2 separate regions of the Homo sapiens genome follow, and region 2 is linked to region 1. Evidence: fine-mapped expression QTL. Tissue or cell type: whole blood. Region 1 holds a variant in brackets; the other region holds the start of a gene. All regions are shown on one strand. Distances are from middle to middle.

Region 1 (2,500 bases):
AGCCTCCCAAGTCGCTGAGACCACAGATACACACCACCACACCCAGCTCATTTTTTCATTTTTTGTAGACAGAGGGTCTCCTTGTGTTGTCCAGACCCTTCTCGAACTCCTGTCCTCCAGCGAGCCTACTGCCTTGGCCTCCCAAAGTGCTAGGATTACCAATGTGAGCCATACACCCAGCCTCAAGGGCTATTTAAATGCTACTTTGAGTTCAGAAACCATGAAATCTTTAGGTACCCAAGACAATTTGGCTATATGTGTTTTATCAGTACAGAGCTATCTCTAAAAAAAAAGAACTTTGTTCCTACCGGTATTTCTTGGGCATGGGGCTTAGTGGTAGAGGAAGAGAACTCAAGACTTCTTTTTTTGTTGTTTTTTTTTGAGACGGAGTCTCGCTCCGTCACCCAGGCTGGAGTGCAGTGGCACAATCTTGGCTCACCCTAACCTCCACCTCCCAGGTTCAAGCGATTCTGTCTCAGCCTCCCAAGTAGTTGGGATTACAGGCGTGTGCCACCACACCCGGCCAATTTTTTGTATCTTTAGTAGAGATGGGGTTTCACCATGTCATCCAGGCTGGTCTCAGACTCCTGACTTCAGGTGATCCACCCACCTCAGCCTCCCATAGTGCTGGGATTACAGGCGTGAGTCACTGCCTTCTTCCTCCATTCAGTAGCCTTTACTGGACTGTTTCTGCAACCCCCAAGCCTTTCTCCCCTTCTGCCATTAGTGTTCTTATATCCAGAACATGCATTCTATAGATCACGTTCTCAGAACCACAGGATGAAGTGGAAACAAAGTGATCAGTCCAGTAGCACCAGCTTGAGAAAGGTGTCAGTAACATTGTGTCAAGAAAGGGAGGATAAGCTCCCCTGTTCAGGAAGGTTTCCTAATTCTCCTCATGAAAATAATTGTATTTCCTGACACAGGTAAAAGTGGCATGGTTTGCGGTGTTGTCCTTACATTTACATCTTGCCATTGTAGCACCTCAGAGTTCTGACAGGCCATTTCTTGCCATTTTAATAACACCCGCACTAAAACCAGAAAAATCAGTCACCACTCCATAAAGTTCTTTCTAACCAAAAGAAACATGTTGTCTCTGGAGAACCAGGCTGAGGCTGTTTTCTTGTCTCTGGAAGGGGAAAACTCCCATCAGCATCACAAAGACCGCTTTCTCCCTTAACAGTCCTATGAAGGCATGATTGG[G/A]TTCTCAGAGGGGAAATCTAACTGTGCATTGAGCAACTTCCCTAACTAGAGGCAAAACTTTTAAATATCTGATGCAAGCACCTGGCTTGTGCAACAGAACTTCCTAAACCAGAATATTCAGATAAACCAGAATGTTTGAACATCCTGTCTGTTCTGGAAATATATTTTAATCAATTCTATTAGGAATATGCAACAGCAACTTACTTTAAGAAGAAATACTTTTAAACTTCCTAAGTTAAAACAATACAATCTGATGTCATGTATTTTCAGGCACTAAGTAAATGTATGTCGACTGTTTCTGCAAACATGTCCTACTTTTAAATATAAAGTATTGTATATAAGGGGAGATATGAGGGTGTTCCTGCTCTTTTTTCCTTTTAAGAAAAATTAATTTACAATGAAAAAGTAAGGCTGCTTCAAGATTTAACAGACCGTTGGGATTATGACTTAATGTGGTACCTAAAATTTGTACATAAAAACCCAGGCTGTGGGTGAAGCCCTTCACTTACCTCACTGAGGGCTGATGCAGGCACCTTGTCCATGCAAAATAACTTCTAAATCAGAATATTCAGATAAACTAGAACTTTTGAGTATCCTGTCTGCTAGGGAAATACATTTAAATATATTCTCTTAGGAATGTTCAAGAGCAACTCCCTTTAAGAGAAATACTGTTAAACTTCCGAAGTCCAGGCAGCTGTCCCGACTCCCTTCCAGAAAGGGAACAGAGAACTGTGATGGAGACTTCCCAGGTCCAGTTTCTCTGAAGGTGCCTTTTTCCTGCAGTGTCTGCCTTTGCTTCTCTCTGCAGTCACCTGAAAACACGTTCATGTCACCTGTTTCACCTCACGCAGATGGCACTCACTGTCAGTGTTTTTATTTTCTTGCAGAACTCATCTAAAGCCGCCCAAGCCCCATCTCCGTGGGGGGCCAGTGGAAAGTAAGTTCGCTTTTCCAAAGTCAATGCCGTAAGCCAGACAATGCATGGTGCTGGGCCACTGCGCTTTGCTTTCTGTTCCCCAAGGGGCTGCCCTGCCTCGCTTGCTCCCGACCTCGCCACTCTGGTTTTTCTACCTCTCCCCTTCCAGGAGCACTGGAACCCCATCCCCCATGTCTCCCAACCCCTCTCCCGCCAGCTCCGTGGGGTCTCAGGGCAGCCTCTCCAACGCCAGCGCCCTGTCCCCGTCGACCATCGTCAGCATCCCACAGCGCATCCACCAGATGGCGGCCAACCACGTCAGCATCACCAACAGCATCCTGCACAGCTACGACTACTGGGAGATGGCCGACAACCTGGCCA
Region 2 (2,672 bases), 66 kb after region 1:
CTAGTAAACAAGTTCCAACTCTGCAAATCAGTTTTCAAAAGAATACTGATTGTTTCCTAAGTACCTGCAAACTCTGAAGCATTTTAGGCAAGGGAATGAGTGGGAAAAAAGTATCTTCATGTTTGTGCATTACAACAATAAAGACTATTATGTAACAATGTGGAGTCTTCAAAGCGACCCTGCCAAGAGGGAGAAAGTGGTCCTTATGGACGGATTGTTTTCTGCTAGAAGGCCCTCAATTAGAATTGTACTTACGCATACATAATATAGGATATTATTTTTATATTCATAGAAAACTGCTTTCTCGGGTAACTCCAGCGCTGTACATGGGATGGGATACCGGCCCTCCGTTTACAAATACTCAGGCGCAATGCTGCCCGGGCACTCAAAGGACAGAAGATAGTGTCTGTGCCCTGCGGGAGCAGGCCACGAATCCCGAAAACGCCGTGGCGCAGTGCTCCTTCCCGCGAACCTGAGTGGGCCGTGGTTCTCGGTTGCTCTGGACATAGGAAAATGTCAGTTCATGTGTGTCCCTTTCTCCACTAGATGTCACTGTAAATCAATTGCTTAAGGAGGGAACCCGGGCGTCTGGCGCATCTTCACACAGTACCGGGGTTTGAAGCCCGGTCAGTGTCTGCACTTGTGTCCTTCCCCACTGGGGAGCCCCAAGGCGGGGCAGGCGCGGGGACTCGCTGTGCACGGAGCGGCGCGCTGTCCGAATGGCAACCGAAGAGCCGCGACCCGGTCAACGAAGCGCGGGGGTGACCGGAGCAGGACGGGCGGGCAGGCGGCGCAGTGCGTGGGCGGGCCCGCGCTGCGCTCCCCTCCGCCCAGCTAGCGAGACGGTCACGTGCCGCCCAGGCGCTGCCCCTTGCGGGCGGCTGCAGAACAACAGGGCGGGGCCGGGGAGGGGAGGAACACGGAGGCCGACGCCGGGCGCCGCGGTGCTACGCCCGAGGCTGGGGTCGCCCCGGGCCGGGGGGAGCAGAGCGCGTGCGCCGCGCGGCTGTGAGCGCGAGCGGGGCCGGGGAGCGCGCGCGGAACGCTAGGGGGCGTGGCTGCGGCGCGCGCGCTAACCGGAGGGGGAGGGGCGGAGAGCCACCGCGGAGCGCGCGCGGGGTTGGTTGCCGCGAGCGTGGGGGAGCGTGGACCGCGGCGCTGCTCAGCGGTGGGGCTGCCTTCCCCCGGCCCTCCTCCCTGGTCCCTGGCGAGGGCACTGGCGGCGGCGGGGCCGGGGTCCGCAAGGCCGGAGAAGGCCGCCGGGCCCGGGCATGGTGGTCTGGGGCAACGCGGAAGGTGAGCGACCCCCGGGCCGGCGGCGGGGTGGGGGAGGGGCGGGATCGGACACGCGTCGCCCGGAGGCGCCGCAGACCCGCCCGGCAGCGGCCAGAGCGCGGTCGGCCTGAGGTGGCGCGGGGGAGGGGTGCGTCGCCCCGGCCCCGGCCCGCGGCCGTCCTGTCGCGGCCTGGGCTGTCCACGGCGCCTTCCCCTGACGCTCGCAGCCGCCGGGTTATGTAATGTGTGACCTCCCCTCCCCTTCCCTTCCGTCATGGCGCGGCCGGCCCCGCGCCGCCGCCAGCCCCATGGGCCGCCCCGCGCCGACCCCTGGCGCAGCGGCCCTTCCCTCCGCGCCCGGCCGCATCCCGCCGGCCCGGTCAGACCGCGCCGCAAACTCCTTCCTCCTGCGCCGGCGCCTCGGCCGGCCATTCAGTTCCGCGCCATTCATTCACGCGCGCGTTCGGGCGTTCGTTCCACAAGCGTTTGTAGAATGTCGACCCGGTCGAGCCGCCGCTCCCACCCGCACTCCAGCCACAGCGTTTTTCCGCACCCCGCCTTCGACGTCCCCGGTGCATCCCAGAACCGGTCGGAATGTCCGAAGGCGGTTGTTGCTCCCTTGTTTTTCCTTGCTGCTTGTCCGTTCGCTAAATACGCTGGGCGCCGTTCCCCAACTGTCCTTCCGAGAGCCCCTTGCCCACTTCTGTACTGTTACAGTGACGCCGCTCTGGGCGCACCGAGCCGCGCTGTGTTTCGCTGCTCTTCCTACCTATTCTCAGTTTGTAAAGAAATAATCTCACATAACACTCCTTAATGTACTCCTCCGTAAGATAAATTGCAGATAATATACGTCTGCTAATTCTCTTTATCTCCACGTCTTCTCACGCCATGTACTAAGTAGAAATGGTTTCATTTAGGTGAAAATAATGCAGACTAGCACATAGCACAACAAGGGCTTGTAACTATTAAGGACTTTATGTAACAGTCTGTAATTCTGTGTATCTGTCTGGTCTTTCCGGACTTGGCACTTTAGTCTCCGAGAATAAGCCATTTCCTGTTTAGGTAGGGTAGGACCAACCATAACCTTGGTTCTTTCTATGGAGTTCTGTATGTAGCAAATCAGCCTGTGGGAACCATCTATCTGTCCACCAACCTTTCACACATATTCTTGGGTTTGCCCGTGCAGGGACCAGTGCTGCGTATTGTTCCCTGCCTTCCTGTACTGGACACTTAAGAGCTCACCTAAAGTTCCTCTTCCAGGAATCATTCTCCAGTATACAAGGCTCTCTTCCATTCAATTCTTAGGCTATTTGCGCCTTTTCCTGTGTTGCGTTTATCTTTTTAGCCCTGTCTTCTCTTACTGTGTAGGACCTTTTGAGGGTAGAGTCTGTACCAAA

What was found. PIP is the estimated chance that this variant, and not a neighbour inherited with it, causes the effect.
Region 2: it holds the start of REV1, and the variant in region 1 is fine-mapped to the expression of REV1 in whole blood (TOPMed, PIP above 0.99).

The regions. Positions count from the first base shown.
Region 1 is chr2:99,554,323-99,556,822 of GRCh38, reverse strand. AFF3 (ALF transcription elongation factor 3) reads left to right here. Exons shown (of 25, transcript NM_001386135.1): 23 at 2,091-2,140; 24 at 2,289-2,500. Among named protein-coding and RNA genes, the nearest start is that of REV1, 66 kb to the right of the region's middle. RefSeq lists enhancers at 922-1,428, 1,812-2,359, 2,360-2,500. The variant G/A (reference allele first, on the strand shown) is at 1,204.
Region 2 is chr2:99,488,441-99,491,112 of GRCh38, reverse strand. It overlaps REV1 (REV1 DNA directed polymerase), which reads left to right and starts at 1,096. Exons shown (of 23, transcript NM_016316.4): 1 at 1,096-1,296. RefSeq lists an enhancer at 273-1,158 and silencers at 592-1,261, 1,372-1,471, 1,542-1,621.